Homo sapiens: one gene and its partners. The protein of the gene in region 5 purifies or fractionates together with the protein of the main gene of each other region. This does not show direct contact. Each region holds a gene or a part of one and is shown on either strand. Other genes may lie near its edges.

Evidence for each region.
Region 1: the proteins of ACAD9 (region 5) and PDSS1 purify together in Homo sapiens (affinity purification with mass spectrometry; 3 studies listed by BioGRID and IntAct, with this or other methods). This does not show direct contact.
Region 2: the proteins of ACAD9 (region 5) and PDSS2 purify together in Homo sapiens (affinity purification with mass spectrometry; 2 studies listed by BioGRID and IntAct, with this or other methods). This does not show direct contact.
Region 3: the proteins of ACAD9 (region 5) and SERPINB4 purify together in Homo sapiens (affinity purification with mass spectrometry; 2 studies listed by BioGRID and IntAct, with this or other methods). This does not show direct contact.
Region 4: the proteins of ACAD9 (region 5) and DBT purify together in Homo sapiens (affinity purification with mass spectrometry; 3 studies listed by BioGRID and IntAct, with this or other methods). This does not show direct contact.
Region 6: the proteins of ACAD9 (region 5) and PDK3 purify together in Homo sapiens (affinity purification with mass spectrometry; 2 studies listed by BioGRID and IntAct, with this or other methods). This does not show direct contact.
Region 7: the proteins of ACAD9 (region 5) and PDK1 purify together in Homo sapiens (affinity purification with mass spectrometry; 2 studies listed by BioGRID and IntAct, with this or other methods). This does not show direct contact.

Annotation. Positions count from the first base shown.
Region 1 is NC_000010.11:26,728,701-26,732,200, reverse strand, and holds part of PDSS1 (all trans-polyprenyl-diphosphate synthase PDSS1), read right to left. Parts: intron 1-3,500. UniProt on the Homo sapiens protein: Heterotetrameric enzyme that catalyzes the condensation of farnesyl diphosphate (FPP), which acts as a primer, and isopentenyl diphosphate (IPP) to produce prenyl diphosphates of varying chain lengths and participates in the determination of the side chain of ubiquinone.
Region 2 is NC_000006.12:107,152,062-107,155,564, reverse strand, and holds the end of PDSS2 (all trans-polyprenyl-diphosphate synthase PDSS2), read left to right. Parts: intron 1-787; coding exon 788-946; 3' UTR 947-3,003; downstream 3,004-3,503. UniProt on the Homo sapiens protein: Heterotetrameric enzyme that catalyzes the condensation of farnesyl diphosphate (FPP), which acts as a primer, and isopentenyl diphosphate (IPP) to produce prenyl diphosphates of varying chain lengths and participates in the determination of the side chain of ubiquinone.
Region 3 is NC_000018.10:63,636,759-63,639,007, forward strand, and holds the end of SERPINB4 (serpin B4), read right to left. Parts: intron 1,366-2,249; coding exon 961-1,365; 3' UTR 501-960; downstream 1-500. UniProt on the Homo sapiens protein: May act as a protease inhibitor to modulate the host immune response against tumor cells.
Region 4 is NC_000001.11:100,188,627-100,190,834, forward strand, and holds part of DBT (lipoamide acyltransferase component of branched-chain alpha-keto acid dehydrogenase complex, mitochondrial isoform 1 precursor), read right to left. Parts: 3' UTR 1-2,208. UniProt on the Homo sapiens protein: The branched-chain alpha-keto dehydrogenase complex catalyzes the overall conversion of alpha-keto acids to acyl-CoA and CO(2).
Region 5 is NC_000003.12:128,900,120-128,903,619, reverse strand, and holds part of ACAD9 (complex I assembly factor ACAD9, mitochondrial), read right to left. Parts: intron 2,345-3,500; coding exon 2,271-2,344; intron 1,068-2,270; coding exon 992-1,067; exon of another isoform or gene 988-991; intron 1-987. UniProt on the Homo sapiens protein: As part of the MCIA complex, primarily participates in the assembly of the mitochondrial complex I and therefore plays a role in oxidative phosphorylation.
Region 6 is NC_000023.11:24,531,286-24,534,922, reverse strand, and holds the end of PDK3 (pyruvate dehydrogenase kinase, isozyme 3 isoform 2 precursor), read right to left. Parts: intron 3,267-3,637; coding exon 3,153-3,266; intron 995-3,152; coding exon 851-994; 3' UTR 501-850; downstream 1-500. UniProt on the Homo sapiens protein: Inhibits pyruvate dehydrogenase activity by phosphorylation of the E1 subunit PDHA1, and thereby regulates glucose metabolism and aerobic respiration. Can also phosphorylate PDHA2.
Region 7 is NC_000002.12:172,601,090-172,604,589, reverse strand, and holds part of PDK1 ([Pyruvate dehydrogenase (acetyl-transferring)] kinase isozyme 1, mitochondrial isoform 2 precursor), read right to left. Parts: 3' UTR 1-3,500. UniProt on the Homo sapiens protein: Kinase that plays a key role in regulation of glucose and fatty acid metabolism and homeostasis via phosphorylation of the pyruvate dehydrogenase subunits PDHA1 and PDHA2.

The DNA of each region.
Region 1 (3,500 bases), on a different chromosome or scaffold from region 5:
ACAACATACAAGAAGGCAAAGAGGTGCACAGACTTGCGCTCAGCATCAGAGGGATGCCTCACATCTTTCCGGAAATGGGTGGAGCATGAAGAATGATTAAGTCAAAGAAAGTGGAGCTCGGCTGACTGTTTTGTTTGAAGCAGATGCTGCAGCCAGGCTGTGCTGTGCGTATGCACTTCTTTCTGGGGAAGGTTCACACCTTGCATCACATCCTTACAAGCCACGTCTCAACGAGACTGGGAAGGGCTGGGCGCAGTGGCTCACGCCTGTAATCCCAGCTACTTGGGAGGCTGAGGCAGGAGAATTGCTTGAACCTGGGAGGCGGAGGTTGCAGTGAGCCGAGATCGTGCCACTGCACTCCAGCCTGGGTGACAGAGTGAGACTCCGATAAATAAACAAATAAATAAATGGCCCTTAAGCATCTGAAAAATGTTCCACCTCACTCAGAAAGGAGAGATGTAAATTAAAACTCCACTGCAATACATTCTCCTCTACTGGACTGGCAAAAACTCAAGCGTGTAATGGCACATTTAGTTAGTAAGGCTGTGGGAAAAGAGGTTCCGAAAAGCTGCTGGTGGAAACACATACTGGTACAGACCCAACAGAGGGAAATCTGGTGGTGCCTAACAAAACCACATGTGCAATTACCCCTAAATTCACCCTGCAGGCACTCCTCTCACAACACAAAAATAGGTTTATGCACGATCAGCCCTTGCAGTAGTGTTTGTAATTGTAAAACTGGAAACCTAAATGCCCATGTATAGAAGATTGGCTGAATAAACCATGCTATGTCCACATAATGGGATCTGATACAGAGGCTTTTAAAAAAATTTTTAAATTATTTATTTATTAATTTTTTTGAGATGGAGTCTCACTTTGTCGCCCATGCTGGAGTGCAGTGACGTGATCTTGGCTCACTACAACCTCCACCTCCCGGGTTCAAGCTATTCTTGTGCCTCAGCCTCCCGAGTAGCTGGGATTACAGGCACCCACCACCATACCTGGCTAATTTTTGTACTTTTAGTAGAGATGGGGTTCCACCATGTTGGCCGGCCTGGCCTTGAACTCTGGTCTCAAGTGATCCGCCTGCTTTGGCCTCCCAAAGTGCTGGGATTACAGGTGTGTGCCACCACGCCCAGCTAATTTTTGTATTTTTAGTGGAGAAGGGGTTTCACCATGTTGGCCAGGCTGGTCTCGAACTCCTGACCTCGTGATTCGGCCGCCTCAGCCTCCCAAAGTGCTGGGATTACAAGCCCAGCCCTGATACAGTGGTTTTAAAAATGAGGAAGATCCTACAAACCAATGTGGAATCATTTTCCTAATAAATTGTTAACTGAAGAAATGCAAAAGGAAAGCAGAGTAGTCTAGGGTACTACTTCTTGCTGTGAGAAAGAAGGGAAGATAGCATACTTGTGTCTGCCTGTTTGTGCTAAACGAAACCCAGGAAGGAGGAACCAGAAGTGAACGAGACTGCTTACCTACAAGGGGGTAGGGGAAGAAAACAGGGCAAAAGGGAGAGTTACTGTATTGTATAGTTCTGACTTTTGGAGCTACATTAATGTCTTTTATTTTTTTTATTATTATTATTTTTTTAGACAGAGTCTCACTCTGTTGCCAGGCTGGAGTGCAGTGGTGTGATCACAGCTCACTGCAGCCTCGACCTCCCAGGGCTCAGGTGATCCTCCCACCTCAGCCTCCCAGGTAGCTGGGACTTCAGGTGTGCACTACCACACCCAGCTAATTTTTGTATTCCTTGTAGACAGAGGTTTCGCCATGTTGCCCAGGCTGGTCTCAAACTCCTGGGCTCAAGCAATCCATCTGCCTTGGCCTCCCAAAGTGCTAGGATTACAGGCATGAGACACTGTGCCCAGCCACGTTGTTTCAAACATTCAAAACAACAGCAACAATAACAAAACGCTCAAAACCAAAACACGAAATCAGCAAGAATGAGAGGGAATCCCTAAAGTGGAATAAAAATGAATCCAACTAGGCTGGGCGCGGTGGCTCACACCTGTAATCCCAGCACTTTGGGAGGCCGAGGTGGGCGGATCACGAGGTCAGGAGATCGAGACCATCCTGGCTAACACCATGAAACCCCATCTCTACTAAAAATACAAAAAATTAGCCGGGCGTGGTAGCGGGCACCTGTAGTCCCAGCTACTCGGGAGGCTGAGGCAGGAGAATGGCGTGAACCCGGGAGGCAGAGCTTGCAGTGAGCTGAGATAGTGCCACTGCACTCCGGCCTGGGCGAAAGAGCAAGACTCCGTCTCAAAAAAAAAAAAAAAAAAAAAAAAAAGGAACCAACTATTAACCCATTTATGCTGGAGGTTGCAAATTTGTTTTGTGAAAAATCAGACCTTGGTAATGACCTTGAGCAGTAGGATAGAAATAACTCCACAAGCTTAGCATTCCAATAATGGAACACTAGGCATAAATGGGTTAATATATTCCAAATAATAACACAACCACACTGATACGTAGAGAAAGGTAACTTTTGAACAGTGCTTTGATTCTATTATCCTCAGGCCCAAGACAAAAGGAATGATAAATACTGAATTCTAGCTACTGGGTTTGTTTTTCACAGAGATATGAGTCATGAATTTGTAAACTCCTATGGTATATTCTCAGATTGTGCAAATAAATACACCGCGGAGAAGAGGAGCCAGGTCTCTCACTGTTTGGGAAGGGGGTTACAAATATGGAAAGATGGAATCCTGGAATAAACCACAAATCCTGTGGTGTTAGATGGATTTGGAACTATCTGTTTGATACCTCGTGGTTTTGAATAAGTATGGATGGGTACAGAAAGATATACACGTATCTACCTACATTACATATAATACATACATGTATTTCCTAGCTCTGTCCATTGAGTGGGTCTAGAAACGATGACACCCAGTACTCAAATTCTGGTTTCTTAACACCATTTTCCACCAAAAGGAATGTGGGCTCCTTGGAGAACAGTGAATAACAGGGCTGAATATCTCCTGCCAGAAATGGGGTGCTGAAAAAATGATGGAGGACACAGAGCCAGGTTAAAGGGCCTCCCCTACTGGCCATACGTTGGATAATTGAGTATTAAAATAATGACAGTGTTATAATCTACAGAATAAAATAAGATGGCTGGGCACGGTGACTCACGCCTATAATCCCAGCACTTTGGGAGGCCGAGGTGGGCGATCACTTGAGGCCAGGAGTTTGAGACCAGCCTGGGCAAAATGGCAAAACCCCGTCTCTACTAAAAATACAAAAAAGTCATCCGGGTATGGTGGCAGCCGCATGTAATCCCAGCTACTCAGGAGGCTGAGGTGGGAGGATCACCTGAGCCCGGGAGGTGGAGGTTGCAGTGAGCTGAGATTGCACCACTGCACTCCAGCGTGGGTGACAGAGTGATACCCTGGCTCAAAAAAAAAAAAAAAAAAAAAAGATACAGAATAAAATAAGAATCCAAGAGCCCATACAGTTAAGAGCTTCCTTACAATGGAATACCAACTCTTCAG
Region 2 (3,503 bases), on a different chromosome or scaffold from region 5:
TACTATGTGTCTTTCTTGAATTTTCATATGGACTATTGTGTCAACATATGGTGTTAAAAAAAAAGTTATTAACTAAGATATTAGTGAAGCCTTCCTCACATAAGAATATCAGGCTGCTGGCCAGGTGCGGTGGCTCACACCTGTAATCCCAGCACTTTGGGCAGCCTAGGCAGGTGGATCACTTGAGGTCAGGAGTTCGAGACCAGCCTGGCCAACATGGCAAAACGCTGTCTCTACTAAAAAATACAAAAATTAGATGGGTGTGGTGGCGCATGCCTGTAGTCCCAGCTATGTGGGAGGCTGAGGCAGGAGAATTGCTTAAACCCAGGAGGCGGAGGTTGCAGTGAGCCGAGATCGCACCACTGCACTCCATCCTGGGCGACAGAGCGAGACTCCATCTCTTTAAAAAAAAAAAAAAAAAAGGGAAGAATATCAGGCTGCTGAATTCAAAATGCCAGAGATGTAAATGCCCTCCGCCTTCTTACTGCCATCCCCCAGCATGGCACATTTCAAGATATTAAGGGATGGGAGTCAGGAGGAGCTGTAATTAAGCTGATTGGAACCTATTGTGCTGCTCTGGAGCACAGACACCAAGCAGCCTTAGGGAATGAGTGCCTCAAGATCACTGGGAAATGATGTCCTCTTTTCCAGAAAATAACGTAGCAGAAATACTCAATCTATACTATTTCTCCCTTTCTTTGTTTTCCATCTCCCCTCCCCAATTTAATTGTGGTGCTTACTGTGTACCTTTAAAACTGACTTTTATCATGCATTTGTTTCTTAACAGTTGCGAGAAAGAATCAAAGCTGGCAAAGGTGTGACTTCAGCTATTGACCTGTGTCGTTACCATGGAAACAAGGCACTGGAGGCCCTGGAGAGCTTTCCTCCCTCGGAGGCCAGATCTGCTTTAGAAAACATTGTGTTTGCTGTGACCAGATTTTCATGACATCAAATTAAAAAGACACTATTGTTAGTTAGCTGAAAATCCTAGGGAATGAGGTTGATTGGGAGCGCTTTCACGATGCGTTAATGACTTTTAAAACATATGCATTTTTCCTTCCTTTTATCACATTGCTAAATGAGTTCTGCTTTCTTTTTGGAACTGCTACAAACAAAATTAGAAGAAAAAAAGGTCAAGCAGTTTTCACTTGTCACGCCAGAAGCACACTTGAGGCTGCAGTCGCAGAAATAATTAATGAGATTCGCTCCTGTGACCTCAGCAAATGGACAGGAAATAAGTCCTTATTGATTGGACCGAGCCAGGGATGGCGCCAGGGCGGTGGCCTGTGGTTTTTCCTGCTAGAGAGGACAAAGCAAGTTGGAAGCTGCAGGTGTCAAGAGAAATGCTCTCAATACCAACCAGGGAGGATTGTCTAATCAAAAACTAGTGACCAATTTGTCATAATGGAGAGTAGTTCAATGGATTGAGAAAAATATGTTTTATTTGTTGGCTTGTAATTATGTCTCTGGATTATTATTATTTTTTTTTTAGATGTAGTTTTGCTCTTGTTGCCCAGGCTGGAGTGCAATGGTGCAGTTTTGACTCACTGCAACCTCCGCCTCCTGGGTTCAAGTGATTCTCCTGCCTCAGCCTCCCGAGTAGCTGGAATTACAGGCACCTGCCACCACGCCTGGCTAATTTTGTATTTTTAGTAGAGATGGGGTTTCACTATGTTGGTCAGGCTAGTCTCGAACTCCTGACCTCAGGTGATCCGCCTGCCTCGGCCTCCCAAAGTGCTGGGATTAGAGGCTTGAGCCACTGCACCTGGCCTCATGTCTCTGGATTTATAATGCAGTATGAATATACTTTGTGCTTTATGGTTTTTATAATGTCTTTTTGGAGAAATTGCCGAAAAGTTGCCAAATACTTGAAGTAGGAGATTAAAATGTTATCAAATGTTAAATTGGTTATATTAGGAATAGTCTGTTTTTCTTTCCTGAAGATCAGTTTTTTTATTCAAACACATTTCAAAGAACCAAATTTTTTTTTTCTTTAAGGAAAAAGGAGCTTTTTTTCAAGTGAAATGTATTCATTTGTAATACTTTGGTTTAAGGCATACTTTAATTTTTACGAGTTTCAGAAACAGAATTTTTGTACTAGGGAATTCATTGGTGAGAGTGTTCTTTTAACCTCAGAATGTCAAATTTTGGTCTTGAACCACAGACATCCAATTACAGAAAGAATATAAGCAATCTCACAGGCCTGCAATCGGACACTGTCTCTGTGTGGTTCATAGGAGATGATTTTTGAGGTTTGCACTCATGCAATTTGAGAACACCGTTGACAAGAAGGCTGAGTTTACATAAATGATCTAGATTGAAACTCAGCTACCTTTCTTCCTCATGTGGTGTAATTACAGCCCTATCTGGAGACAGCGAATACAGCAAACAGATTTTATTACCTAGTTCGCTCAAACACTACATGAAGTTATTTTAGTTAAAGCCCTCCCCCAAAAGTTATAAAACCATTTTATCAGGGCCCAACATGTGGCATGCAATGAAGAGAAAATGTAAAGCTACAGAGGTTAATGTATTGTATTATAAAATATTTTAAGTGTACTCAAAATATCATAATTGTACAGTTTATGCCACCATAATTTGAGGCCTATAGATTTAGCTTAAGAGAACACTGTTCTGTTTGAAATGCTTTCTGTCACTGAAATTGGCTTAATTAGTAACCATGGATAAGATGCTTTAGATCAGACTAGGTTTTAATCATTAACTTCCACAAAGAAGTCATACTTTGCGTTAGGTGTGCTGGTTGGATGTGCAGGAACTTCAGCAAGCAGTAGGTTTTACTAAGCAGATGGTCGGGCACTGCAGGGCACCAGGCAGGATCCTAGGGCGCCTCTTATTCTGCGTTAGCATCTGGTTTGCTGTATGACCTTGCACAAGTCACTTCCTTCTGAGCCTCAATTTTCTCATCTGTACAATGAGATTCAAAAGTTGACCTGAAAGTCAAGTGTGAAAAAAAAAAAGAGATTAAACAAGATAATTATGAAATTCTTTCCAGGTTTGTTTTATTTTCTGAAAGTTTACTATTCTTGACTGTCTAAATAGCAAAGATGCTGTGTGAGGTTCAGGGAGGAGGGAAGGTGAAACCCAAAGAGAGGCCCTGAAGGAATGGAGAGAGCTTAATGGCAAGCTTCCTGCCAAGCTGCCTCTGCATGACCTAAAGGATTCCAGCTCTCCTATGTGACATGTAACCCTGGACTTTTCTGTCTCAACACCTGCCTTGCTGCTTTCTTCGGGACCTTTCCTACCTCCCTGTCATCTTCCCAGCTGCTCTCGTGTCCTTTATCCCATCTCCTGTACCTTGCCATCCTGACTCCCTGGAACCTGGATCCCTGGGAGCAGTAGCCCCCTGCTGCCTGCTGAGTGACAGAGCTCTGCCTCCCCCACAGGGGTGGCTGGCCTCCTTCCTCAGGCCCCACTTAGCAGAATTCTCACTTCCTCAGCATCACGGCAGGCTTTTACAGAACATAACAAGTTGGCTAGTTCAC
Region 3 (2,249 bases), on a different chromosome or scaffold from region 5:
CAAAGTCTTTTTTTCTCTCAGAAACAAGATATTCTTCCATCCATCCAGTCAGATAGGTCAGCAACTTAGATGTCTTTCTGTAACTATTATTTCCTAAATAATTCCCCCAGGCTCTTTCTTTCTCTCCATTTCCACTCCCAATACTCTAATGATTTCCTAATTTATATATGGTAACCACACTGTTCTTTCCTCGCATCCATTGATATCAGCGTAGCCAGAGATGTATTTTCTAGATGTGGATATGATAATTTTATGCCCCTCTTTGACAAACAACCATCAAAGCCTGTAATGAGTTTCTTATCCCTTTAGCATAAAATAGGAAGTTCCTATGTGGTTTACAAGGCTCCTCCTGTTCTGGGATATGCCTTCTACTCCAGGCTCATCATGAACTACTCTGTTTTTAATTTTCCTTTATATATGATTAATATATCTCTAAATTATCTTTCCTATGTGTAACTGGACACTTGCCCTTTCCAGAGAGAAAACAGGTAAAGCAAAAATGATTTTATGTCATTATTTTATTGATGATGTGTTTTATAGAATCACAAAATTTAGAAACATAAGAAGGATTTAGGTATCACCTAAATTCAAAGAAATGTGTGTTTCTAGGTTGCTAAATTTGAAGAGAAAGTATGATTTGGTTTGGTTCATTTAAAACAGGTCAGAAACAGAATTATATTTCAAATTTAGAAGACACGGTATTAAATGATTCATCTTATCTTGGACATTTTTCCTCAAGGGAAATTTTTCTGGAAGGAAAAGTACATTTATATGTGGGCTTATTAAGAGAAAGAGAGAAAGGCATGCTATTTTAATCATTAAATTCTTGATGATGACTATCATCATCAAGATGAGATAGAAAAGAAATATGAGCCAAGAGAATCTGTTGTTGCCAGCAATCAGTTTACCAGAACACCTCTAGGTGAACATTTTCTAAATGGAGTGACAGACTAATTGCATCTATGGGGATGAGAATCTGCCATAGAAGAGGATGCTGTTGGTCTTATTTTGCCTTATGAAGAATAGGAAAGGGTGATTACAACAGAACTCTTCATTAGTTGAAGGAGATGATAATTCGACTACTACTACAGCGGTGGCAGCTGCAGCTTCCACTCCCTCCTCAGTGACCTCCACAAAGGCCTTGTGTAGGACTTTAGATACTGAGAGACCGTGGCTCCAGGTCATGCCTGAGAGGTCTGCATCCCCATTGAAGATATTCACCATTCCCATGGTTCTCAACGTGTCCTTGAGGTCATAGCTCTCTTCCATTTTGAACCGAGGTAAGTGTAAATCGACACATGTCTCTCTCATATTCTGCAAACTTGTCCATTCCATCAATTTCTCAGCAGTGAGTTTCTCTTCAAGCTATACAAATGGAAAAAAGAAACTGATATGACTAACTGTCGATCTCTAATACACCTTAACAATGAATTGACTATGTGGAGATTCGTTATTTTGGCAATAAATGTGAAATACAGAAGGTTCACTTTAATAGACATTATTATTCTAATAGGTAAAATATGAGTCCTGAATATATAAATACATTGGGTTATATGTGTATATGTATATACATGTATGTAAAAACAGAATCATGTTTTTACGTATATGTATATGTGTACATATGTATGTATACAACTGTATGATACACATGTAAAATATGATTACATTATTTTGTACACAATGAACTGTATGTATCACTATTTCTTGTGCCAACAGCCTACTACATGTGTCAATTTTTAATAGGCTCATCATATTTTTCTGTATACATTATTTAGTACACATTGCAATTATTAAATTGTAATTCCCTAAATTCCTAAATTTGTATTCCCTTTTCTACTCGGCCTATTTGTAAACTTTCCTCACATTGGTATATATTTCTCCCAGTCAAGTTTAAATTGCTGCATAATAATATCATCAAATTGATATCCAATGCATGTAACTCTAATAAATTAATCATTAACTAAGCCATAGATGGAATTAAATCATAGATGGGAATTGAACAATGAGAACACTTGGACACAGGAAGGTAACATCACACTCTGAGGACTGTTGTGGGGTGGGGGGAGGGGGGAGGGATAGCATTAGGAGATATACCTAACGCTAAATGACGAGTTAATGGGTGCAGCACACCAGCATGGCACATGTATACATATGTAACTAACCTGCACATTGTGCACATGTACCCTAAAGCTTAAAGTATTATAATAATAATAATAAAAACAAACAAACAAACAAAAACTAAGCTTTCA
Region 4 (2,208 bases), on a different chromosome or scaffold from region 5:
CATATCAAACCTAAATTATTGATCTTCCACCTGTTCTCATTTCTTCTGTCCTGTCTCTTGTTGAGTCACAACAGCTGTTCCCCATGCTCTGCGTGGTAACATTCCACATGGTACTCCATAAAAGCCTGATATAGATGACCTCTCTATAACAGAACTGCAATTATTCTTGTCATGCTTCAGTTGTTTCTGTGGCTCTCCTCTGGACTCTCTCCAAATTCTCCTGCTCAGTTTTAGCAAGCTGGCCTGGAGTTCTCTCACACGGTCTGGCTAGCACAGTAATTTGCTTGTGGTTAAAAGCCTTTGTGCTCAGTACTGAGACTGCCACATAATGAATTTTCATTTCCATTTTATTCTGAACTTGCAAACATCAGAGATTCGTGCTATCTTCAGTGTTTAAGTGGTAATGCCTTTTGTAAAATAAAGGAGGCTGCAGGCCAGGCACCGTGGCTCATGCCTGTAATCCCAAAGCTTTGTGAGGTGGAGGCGGGCAGATCACTTGAGGTCAGGAGTTCGAGACCAGCCTGGCCAACATGGCGAAACCCCATCTCTGCTAAAAATAGAAAAATTAGCCAGGCGTGATGGTGCATGCCTGTAATCTCAGCTACTTGGGAGTTGAGGAATGAGCACTGTTTGAACCCAGGAGACGGAGGTTGCAGTGAGCAGAGCCGAGATCGCACCACTGCACTCTAGTCGGGGTGACAGAGTGAGACTCCATCTCAAAAATTAAAAAAAAAAAAAAAAAAAGCCTGTGGTTATTTTGATGGGATAGCAAGGATAACATGAACCATGTAAGGTTTGGCATAAATAGTTCATAGTTGACCTGGTCTGTCTGACTGTCTGAGATGTCACTGAGTCATTTGATGACCTTGAAATGCTAAAGCATTGGAATGAATGTCTGTAGATCAGGACAGAGGTGGGTTCAGAGAACTATTTAGGAGACATCTGGGTGGGAGTTGTGGCCAACACTGATTACAGGTGAGCACTGGGGAAAAAAGCCAGGATTGCAAGGAGTTAAAGATCACCCATTCAAGAAGTTTGGCAGAAGGAGCAAGACAGGAAATTTATTCATTTAGTGGCAGTCAGAGGTAACAATATAAGAAAAGCATTCTGAGTCTTCTTTTAGGCAAACTGAAATTTGCCATTAGAGAAGGGAGTTCTTTGTTTTTCGTTTGTTTTAGGGACTATTTAAAAAATAAGAACATTTGTGTCTTATTAGTTAAGGCAGCACTATCCAATAGAATTTTCTGTGATGATGGAAACAGTCTACATCTGTGCTATCTGGTATGGTGCTATAAGCCACATGTAGCTATTTAAATTTAAATTTAATTAGTGTGGCTACTGAGCAATTGAAATGTGGCTAGTATATCTGAGTTGAATTTTGATTAATTAAAATTAAAATTTAAATTTAAATAGCTACATGTGGCTAGAGGCTACTGCATTAGACAGCTCAGAGTTCGAGTTTTACTAACTAGACTTGCAGATTAATCTCAAAATATTAATGTCTTAAAACAATAAAAGTGTATTATTCAACTATCACATCCAAACCAATTGGTGCTAGGGTGTAGGGAGGGGAGCATTCTGCTCTGCCTAGTCATTTGGAACACTGGCTCCTTCTATCTTGTGTGGTGCCATCTTCAACCTTGAAGGGTGCATGTTGGAGGGGAAGAGATAGAATATGAAGAATCTCTTGAGAAGTGTTATGGGCCATGTCTGGAAATGGCCTACATTACTTCAACCCATATACCCATATTCTAATAGTTACAAATAAATGACATGGCTCTACCTAACTGCAGGCTGAAAGAAAAGGAACAAGGTTTATGGACACATAACATTACCCTGCCACAATGAAATTTGTAGAGGTCTGGGATCAGTCTCTAATACCTCCTCCATAAGGAAATGGAAATAAATTTTAATCAGTGTGCTAAGGGAGTAAATCTGGTACAGTTCTGGATGTGAGGAAGAGACTGAAGGATCAAAGTGGGGCAATGGGGGTTCAACATGGGGCAGGGATCAGGAGGAAGAGATGGAATAAATAATAGAGGACAGAAAACAGTTGGTATTTGCTGATGGAGAACCACTTCTCGGAAAGAGAAACAAAAAGAAAGTGTGAGAATAGAAATTTTGAGGTGAAAAGGAGAGAAATTCAAGGTTCTTAGATTGAATCACTTTGTCTGCTCTGAGGTTATTTGCTTATTATGACAAGCCTGG
Region 5 (3,500 bases):
TACTCAGGCTGGGGCTTCCAGGCGTGTGGCTGTGACAAAGTGCTGAGCTCTAAGGGCCCAAGAGTGACATGGCGCCTCTCCCAGGCAGAAGCACCCCCGCCCCGCCATAGCCATGTCCTCCACAGGCTCTCCCAGGTGTGGTGCACTCAGGAGGTGTAGAGGGCCGAGCCCCACTCAGAGCCCCAGCAGAGGAGCTCCCCAGAGGCCTTGTGCCTGAGTAAGAAGAGCCCTGAGCCTGGAGCCTGACAGCTTTCATTTTGGGTCCAGGAGCACAGTCTGGAACAAATCGCTTGCCCTCTCTGAGTCTCTGTCTTCTCATCTCTAAAATGGAGGGAAGCCAAAACAGGCCCAGAGCCTGGCACCAAAGAGGAGCTTCATAAAGCACTTAGGGGTGTGCTGCCCCGGGTACCCCCATTTCCCCGCAAATGCTTCCACCACAACCAGGATGGTTACAGGGCTGTTCTAAGTTCACTGGCAAAGGAAAATGGAGGTTTGGGGTATTCTGACAGAATAGAACAAAGGTAAGATCCAGGGGCCCAGGGACCTGGGTTCCAAACCCGATCCTACTCCCCACCCACCATGCAGAGTCACCCAGGAGGCACGGACCTTGGGAACCAGAGGCCGTGTATCCTGGAAGCCTGGTTCTTGGTGTGTGCTCACCAAGCAGCTCTGCTCCTACTGGTCAGTGGCAACCTCTCACTCCAGACAGACAGCCCATTCCCCAATCCCCATCCCCACCCCAGACAGAAAGCCTGTCCCCCAGTCAGCATCACCCGGGTGGAGGTGAAACAGAGGAATGCGGAAGACAACAAACCTCAGGGGCAGGCTGAGGAGACCCTCTGGTCTCCACAAAAGCCCAGGGACTGAGCTCAGGCTGGTAGCCTGGTTCAGCACTGGCCTGGAAGGGGCCGGGGGAATGGCAGAGCCTCCAGGGTTGGAGCCGGGGCAGCAGGGGGTGGGGCACAAAGGGCCTTGTCCCTAACTTACCTACCAATCAATCTCTTGAGCAGCCCAGCCACGACGCTGCCCATGCTGAACCGGCCGCTGTTGAGGATGTTCATGGCCACCTGCAGGGAGAACAGGGAGAGCCCAGGGGCCCTGAAGGAGGCAGAGGGAGGAGGCCGCAACGAAACCAGGCCAGGTGGATCAGCTTGCCTTCCCTCAAGCTGGGAGAAAGCACCATCCTAATGCCTCAGAACAAGGTGGTTCAGTCACTGTTGCAGCTCTACCAACATCCCCACACACAAGACCACTGAACGTTATTCCAAAGGACCATGCCAGAGCTGGGCATGGTGGCTCCCACCTGTAGTACCAGCATTTTGGAAGGCCAAGGCAAGAGGATCGCTTGAGCCCAGGAGTTCAAGACCAACTTGGGCCAAACAGAAATTCTACTTTTAGGCATAAATCAAAATACCTGAAAACGTTATTTCCACATTAAAACTTGACATGAATGTTCATAAGTAGCATTACTGATAGCAGCCAAAAGCGGTAACAACCCCAATGTCCATCAGCTGGTGAATGGATGAACAAAATGTGGTATCTCCACTCAACAGAAGAGAATTCAGCCATAAAAGGAATGAATTACTCATTCATGCTATGAGAGAGATGAACCTTGAAAACATCACGCAATGTGAGAGAAGCCTGTCACCAAAGACTGGATCTTGTATATGACTGCATTTTTATGAAATGTTCCAAACAGGCAAATCCATAGGGACATAAAGTAAAAGAGTAGCAGCCAAGGGATGGGGTAAGGGTCATACTGGATGGTACAACATTTCTTTTTGGGGTGAGGAAATGTTCTGTGTGAGATATTTGAACAACATAGTGAATATACTAAAAACCACTGAAATAATATTTTAAAATGGTGAGTCCTTTGTCATATGAATCATCTCTTGATAAAAATAAGTCTTAGTCCAAAAAGAAAAGAGTAGGGCAGCGATGCAGACCAGGGTTGTGGTACACAGAGCTTGAGATTCACCAGAGCCCACAGGCTGCTTTCTCATACCCACTGCAGAAGGGAATCTTAGCCTCCGCTCGAGGCGAATAGGGCCTCAGAGGTGAAGGGAAATTCCTAATCCTTACCATACACTTCTTCTAGGAGCCAGCCAATTTTCCAGTGTCCATTTTGCCAATTTCCCAACAGATAACCATGCAAAGTCACCTGCCATGCACAGGCTACTCTGCTACGAGCAGGGATAGGGCAAAAGCTGGGGGCGACAAACTGCACTCATGACACTACCTGGTACAAGGGGCTGTGGCTGGCAACTCACCTTAAACCCATCTCCGACCTCTCCAAGGATGTTTTCCACAGGTATCTTGGTGTTTTCAAAATGGACTTCACAAGCTGAAACACATGAAATTTAAGATATCATCTGACAATGCAAACCACTCTGCATCTGACCTGCAAGCAGGCAATTCATCCATCCATCCATCCATCCATCCATCCAATGTTTGGTAGGACAGTATAGAAAGACAAAGTTCCTATCTTTGTGGAGGCTCATACTTTGATTTGGGAGACAAAAGCTATAAACAAAACAATGTAATATTGTGATCAGTGCTATGGATGAAATAAATAGGGCATCACGATAAAGAGAAATGGAGGTTGGCAAGGGGGTGGATAATAATATTTTTATTAAGGACTATGTCAGACTTTTCTAAGGTGACATTTAGCAGAAGTTTAAGAATGAAAAGAACCAGGCATATAAAGAGCCAGAACAAGCAAAGTGAGGGAAAGAACAGCATTTCCTGAAGCCTTAGGGTAGACTGGGACCACTGGTCTCAATTCTTAACTCTAACACAATCACACCCCTGCAATCTAACTGTAGCACTCTCCCACTGTGAGGAGGGATGGACCTCCCTCCCTTTCCCTGCCTGCTAGGTATGACCATGTGACTTCCTGTGGCCAATACAAAGAGCTGACCCAACATGAACAGAGACCTTAAATGTGTTTTAGGGTCAGTCGGGTATGGTGGCTCATGCCTATAATCCCAGCATTTTGGGAGGCAGAGGCAGGAAGATCACTTGAACCCAGGAGTTCGAGACCAGCCAGGACAACATAGCAAGACCTCATCTCTATTTAAAAAAAAAAAAAAAAAGGCCGGGTGCGGTGGCTCACGCACTTTGGGAGGCCGAGGTGAGCGGATCACGAGGTCAGGAGATCGAGGCCATCCTGGCTAACATGGTGAAACCCCATCTCCACTAAAAAATAGAAAAAATTAGCCGGACGTGGTGGCAGGCAGCTGTAGTCCCAGCTATTCGGGAGGCTGAGGCAGGAGAATGGCGTGAACCCGGGAGGCGGAGCTTGCAGTGAGCCAAGATAGTGCCACTGCACTCCAGCCTGGGCGACAGAGCGAGACTCCGTCTCAAAAAAAACAAACCAAAAAAAAGTGGCCAGGTATGGTAACTCACACGTGTAATCCTAGCACTTTGGGAGGCTGAGGCAGGTAGACTGCCTGAGCTCAGGAGTTCAAGACAAGTCTGGGCAACATGTTGAAACCCCA
Region 6 (3,637 bases), on a different chromosome or scaffold from region 5:
GCAGTGGTGCGAATCATAGCTCACTACAGCCTGGAAGTCCTGGGCTCAAGTGATCCTCCCGCCTCAGCTTCCTGAGTAGCTAGGACTACAGACCCACACCACCACACACGGCTAATTTTACCTTTTTAAATTTTTTGCTGAGACAGAGGTCTCACTATGTTGCCTAGGCTGGTCTTGAACTCCTGGCTTCAAGAGATCATCCAGCCTCAGCCTCCCAAAGTGTTGGGATTACAGGCGTGAGCCACCACACCCAGCCCAGAACTTACCATCTTAACCATTGCTACATGTACAGTTCAGTGGCATTGAGTACATTCACGCTGTTGTGCAAGCATCACCACCATCCATCTCCAGAAGTTTTTCATCTTTCCACCTGAAACTTTGTACCCATGAAACAATGCCTCCCCATTCCATCTTCGTCGCTAGCCCCTGGCAACCTCCCTTCCACTTTGTGTCTCTGCATTTGACTACTCTAGGTACTTCACATAAGTGGAATCATAGTATTTGTCCTTTTATGTCTGGTTTATTTCACTTAGCATAATGACTTCAAGATTCACCCATGTTGCAGCACATATCAGAATGTCCTTCCTTTTTAAGGCCAAATAATATTCCATTGGATGGATAGATCACCTTTTATCTTGATTGATCATTTTAACTTATTTTTCAGTTTCAACCTACAACGTTTATGAGGACAAACTGCAAACTTAATTGCTTTTTAAATAAAATTGATGGCAGGCCAAATCCCTGCTTGCTGTTGTGAATACCTCTACACTGCAAGAATTCCTGGAACAGTGAGTGGGACACCTTTATTCAGACAAATCAGATACTTTGTAATGGAAATCAAGGTGGTATATTACTGTTTTGCTTTGTATTTTGAAGCATCCCTGGGTTCACTGCTGGGATTGCTCCAATCATCGGCTTCAGGCGTGGTCTTGTAATGGCGCCATGCGGACTTATTAAAAACTGGAAGTCTCTCAAATGACTCACTTGAAAGAGCCTATTGGAGAAACAAAAATATACACCAAAGGTCGACAGTGTCATTTTTCTCAAGTGAAATAGTAACCCAAATTTTATTATTTAAAACATCAGAAACCTTAATACATATTTTCAAAATGATATTAAAATTACACCTTAGTAGTTTACTTAGACTGGCCAGGAAAACATTAAAGCTTTTTTAAAGGAATGAAAACATTTGCTCATTCAAAATCAGAACTGAAATACACATGACCAGAACAAAACATATTTTAATTCAGCTCATACTGCTTTGAGATGCTCAACTGTTTTGACTATACCTGGTGACTGGTCTCACAAAGGGCCCAGGAAGAGATACAGTCTCATGCATCCCAGGTTTATAAACACACACCATCAAGTATATTAAATATCGCATTACTTAGATGCATGGGCATCTAAGATAAATACTCCCAGTAACTGGTTAAATTCTGGTATCACATACATAGGTTGAGTATCCCTTTGAAATGCCTGGGAACAGGCCGGGCACAGTGGCTCACACCTGTAATCCCAGCACTTTGGGAGGCTGAGGCAGGTGGATCACCTGAGGTCAGGAGTTCGAGACCAGCCTGGCCAACATGGTGAAACCCTGTCTCTACTAAAAATACAAAAAATTAGCCGGGTGTGGTGGCTCACACCTGTAATCCCAGCTACTCAGGAGGCTGAGGCAGGAGCATGGCTTGAACCCAGGAGGCAGAGGTTGCAGTGAGCCGAGATGGCAGTACTGCACTCCAGCCTGGGTGACAGAGTGAGACTCTATCTCAAAAAAAAAAAAAAAGAAAAAGAAAGAAACAAAAAAAAAGAAAAGAAAGAAAGAAATGCTTGGGACCAGAAGTAGTTCTGATTTTTTCCGATTTTGGAATATTTGCATTGTGCTTACCTGTTAAGCATCCCTAATCTGAAAATCTGAAATCTGGGGTGCTCCAATAAGCATTTCCTTTAAGCTTGACCTTTGAGCAAGCATCACGTTGGCGCTCAAAAAGTTCCAGATTTTCAACCATTTTGGATTGCAGATTCTTGGGTTAGGGATGCTTGACCCACAGTGGCATGTTATGCCACTGTTTAAAAGAATGAGCCAGTTCTACATAAATGGATCTGGAAAGATCTCTAAGACAGATTGCAAAGTAAAAAAAATAAGAAGGTGCTGAAATTTCATTTATGTGGGAAAAATTCTATTTTTCCCATATTTATAAATGTAGAATCAACTCTAGGAGGATCCATAAGACGCTGAGACCGGTGGTGATCTTCGCTGAACAGAACTGGCGGTTTAGGGCCAGTGGGAGGAGAGACTTCATTTTTCCTTTTGTAGCTTTTAAATTTTTATTATGTGCCTATATTACCTATTCAAAAAAATGTTACAAATATTCTAGAGTTTAGAAATAAAAGCCCAATGATCACCAATGAATAAGAAAAACTGTGTTACAGAGAAGTTTGTTATTAAATGAATCTTTTACATAACCATATTATGATTACTGAATTCTTGTAGCTTTGGGAAAGCCAGTGAGTTTTTAAAACAAAAGACCAAAATACTTCAGTTTATGAAAATCTGCCTTCTTTTAGATCAGACCTTTCAATAGGCATGTAGTTTTTTAAGTCACAATTTAAAATTATGGTTTTAAAAATCAGTATTTTAATTTTTTTTTTTCTCTTTTGAGATGGAGTCTCATTCTGTCGCCCAGGCTGGAGTGCAGTGGCACCATCTTGGCTCACTGCAACCTCTGCCTCCCGGGTTCAAATGACTCTCCTGCCTCAGCCTCCTGAGTAGCTGGGACTACAGGCGTGCACCACCACATCAGCTAATTTTTTGTACTTTTAGTAGACATGGGGTTTCACCATGTTGGCCAGGCTGGTCTCGAACTCCTGACCTCAGGTGATCCACCCACCTCAGCCTCCCAAAGTCCTGAGATTACAGGCATGTGCCACCACGCCCGGCCAAAATCAGTATTTTAATTTCTATACCTCCACGTTTCATATTTTGCTTTATCTGAGCATAGAATCAAGCGTGAGGCATAACATGGTTTTCATGGGAAAATGAAGTAAATCTGAGATGAATCTAAGAGATGATACAGTGCTGTTCTCAATCAGCGATTAGAACTTACAGCTTTAAAAAGCAAAGATGCCTCATACTAACAAATAAAACGCAGTACCTTCAAATAAATGACAGCATCAGTACCCACTCCTTCCATGGAATACAGTTTCAGATCTCCTTGAAAATATCTAGCATACAGACGGGAAATTGGCAAACCATAACCAAATCCAGCCTATTGAGAAAAGAAAATTAATACAGTGAGACAGGCACAAATGCTAACACATTTTATATGATGACCATTCAGAGAAGGTTAAAATAAATTCTTGATTCAGATTTAAATCAAATAAATTACTGACTCAACCTTTACAATGATGTATATCCTCTTCTATGGCAAACAACCCCTTTATTTTCACCCTGCAAAAACATGTCTTATATGTTTGGATAATAATAGAAATATTCTAATTTTTGACTAATGCTTTTTTAGCATTTTAAAGCAAAATTTTATCATTTTTTTAAAAGCACATTCCAAGGCCGGGCACAGTGGCTCACGCCTGTAATCCCAGCACTTTGGGAGGCTGAGGCAGGTGGATCACTTGAGGTCAG
Region 7 (3,500 bases), on a different chromosome or scaffold from region 5:
AGTAAAACTCCAGAGGCCATGATTTTTCTGAACTGGAGATTCAAACGTGAAATGTATTAGCAATGAACATTGGAGAGGAAAAACGTTTTTTTAAAAAAATTTGTAAGTTAAAAAAAAAGCAAATACTTAGATTTAAGTCTAACAAAATATGCGCGGAATCTGTAAGCTGAAAACTACAAAGTAACAATGAAAGAAATCAAAGGCAATCTATGTAAAGGAAGATATATGCTATGTCTGGCCAGGTACGGTGACTCACGCTTATAAATCCCAGCACTTTGGGAGGCCAAGGCAGGTGGATCCCTTGAGGTGGCGACACCCTGTCTCTGCTAAAAATACGAAAATTAGTCAGGCATGATGGCGCTCGCCTGTAATCCCAGCTACTGGGGAGGCTGAGGCAGGAGAATTGCTTCAACTCAGGAGGCAGAGGTTGCAGTGAGCCAAGATCATGCTACTAAACTCCAGCCTGGGTAATCTCAGAGCAAGACTCTGTCCTCACCCCCCGCCAAAAAAGATATACGCCATGTTCATAAATTGAAAAGCTATTGTTAAATTCTCCTCAAATTGGTCTAGAAATTTAACACATCACAATCCAAATCTCAGAATTTTTTTAGATATTGATGTTAATATCCTTGCCCATCAGTAGTGACAGAAGCATCGATCTTACCAGCCAAATATAAATGGACTCTCCTTTGTTAAACCCTCAGCAGTCACCCATACAGGACATTCATGTATTAGATTATGTGAAATGACTATAGTCATCCGCTAAATTAATGCAGAACATTAATAATGAAGTTTTATCAGGGCCTTCCATTCACAGGCATAAGAGGTCTTATCAACTGACTTTGATGTTACCTGCCTGGATCTAACCCTGGAGACTAGATCCACATCGACATTCACCAGAGAAAATCACTTGGACCTTGCTCTTTAAGGGGCCACACTAAGTCCTATCTACCCCCCACCACTGCTATAAAGTGCCAGAGCTTTCGGTCTTGGGTCCATGCTTCCCACTGCCAGAGACTTCACTTATTGCCTGCAGCAGACAACATTAGTGAAGCTCTCATTAACCACTCAAGTTTGCTGTCGTCTTCCATGACCTTCCCCATGAAATGGATACAAAGATAAGCATTACACATGGGTATCACTTCCTTGCATTAGCCAATTATCAGGATTTCCACTAGTTATATGTTCACTGGGTAAGATCCTTAAAATTCAGATGTCACAAAGATTAACTAATGGGTTTTCGATCTCGAGGTCATGGACACATCCACCAAGTACCCTGTATATCAGGAATAGATCCTTCTTATCTTTTTTAAGTACTCTAAGAATCAGATTACCAGATCTGTCTTGCCATTTGCTCTGTAACTGGTCTCGTCTTTCCAGCTGGCCCTTTGGGCTGCTAAAAGCAGTTTATCTCACAACCTTTAGTCCTTTGCTACTCAAAGTATGGCTCACAGACCAGCAGCATTAATATCACCAGGAAACTTGTTAGAAATGCAGAATCTCAGGCCCCACTCCAGATCTGCTGAACCAGTCTGCATTTGCTCAAGATCTCCAGGTGATTCGCATCAGGAGCATTGCTTACAAAGATTTAACCTTACTTTCCATTGGTTAAGTGAGTCCTTATCAAGCCAACCCTGATCCAAGAGTAACAATCAAGTTCAGCTGTGCACCACAGCAAATGAGGCATCACCTGATGGTTCTTAATGGGTGGTTGTTCCTATTTGTTGCTTTTGTTGGTCACTGAGAGTTGGTTTTAAGATTAAAGGGACCTTTTTCTCCAAAGGAAGATTTGCCACACCAAAGCAGGAAAGGCAATGGTTTACCAAACAAAAAAACCCTAGGCCCTTTTATAAGTCTAATGTTTACCCAAACACAGAAACATAAGATGTTTCTTTCCTCTATGCTCCAAAATATTAGGTCAGAGTTAGAAAGGAGAATCCATAGGCAGGTAACTTTTTGTTAACACCTTGCAAATGGTGATACTTGCAACGCCTGGCAAATGGTGACGCCTTGGACGTATTACTCAACAAATTTTCCATGGCAGGCCCATGGATCCAACCTCATAGACAATTCCAGTATGTCTGTCTTACATCTGACACTATACGAGGTTTATTGTAACATCCACTAATGGCTTATATAAGTGAGTTAAGCACTTTTAATTACAACTATCCCCCAAAGAAACTGAATTTCCTGTTTCTGTTGATGTGATCATATAGTTTTTCTCCTTTAATCTGTAGAGAGGTAAATTACATATTTTTATTAAAACATCCTCCTGTTCCTGGGAAAGATTCTCCTTTTGCTCATGATACAATATTTTATGCACTGCTACATTCAATGTGCCAATATTTCATCAGCAATTTTTCCATCTATGTTCATAAACAAGATTGGTCTATTAATATTTCACAGTCTTTGCTCAAGTGTAGCTTTGAGATTTTACTAACTTTCTGAAATGGGTTGGGTAGCTTTCTCTCATTTCAAAGTTTCTATAAGACAGGAATTATCAGTTTCTTGATGTTTTGGTAACATTCATCTTTCAAAAATTGTCTTTTGGCGAGGTGGACTTGTGATTACTGATTCCACTTCCTTAGTGGTTGATTTAAATTGTCAAAATCTTAGATGGATCTTCTACTGTTTTCCTAGAAATATATCCATTTCTTCTCCACTTACAAAATTTTTATCATAAAGTTAATGGTATTCTTATGATTATTTTAAATCTCTATTGGTAGTTATGTCCTTTAAAAAAAAATCTAAATACTGTTTATTTGGGCCTTTTCCTTTCCTGACTGGAGGTTTATCTGAAGGGTCCCTTCTGCTGCAGCCTGCAAAGCCTCCATCAAGGGACACCCACTAGCTGGTTGCTGCCACAGCTGTGGCTTTACCTACCCCAGCTAACCCAGCGAGTATTAGTCCATCCCCACACTGCTATAAAGAACTGCCTGAGACGGGGTAATTTATAATAAAAAGGATTGACTCACAGTTCCGCAAGGCTGCAGAAGCCTCCAGAAACTCACAATCATGGTGGAAGGCACCTCTTCACAGGGCAGCAGGAAGAATGAATGCAGGAGGAACTACCAAATACTTATAAAACCATCAGATCTCATGGGAACTATCACGAGAACAGCATGGGAGAAACCAACCCCATGATCCAATTACTTTCATCTGGTCTCTCCCTTAACATGTTGAGATTATAATTCAAGATGAGATTTGTGCGGTGGGGACAGAAAGCCTAACCATTATCAGTATGTTTGCTTGTTTACTTCTATTTTAAACTTTAAAATAAACCCGTAACTTTAGCAGTGCTGTTTTGCTACTCCTCTTAAATTCTCTCATTTTCTTGTGTATTTCATCCTTTTGCTAGTTTTGCACTGGTTACTACTCAGTTTCTTTGTTGTACTGAGTCATTTAAGTATCATTTTGAGAATGGAAAAAAATGTTATTAAGTTCATTATTCCTTATGTATTTACTGAGCATACAATTGTTATAGAAGGCAGAAAGAATTT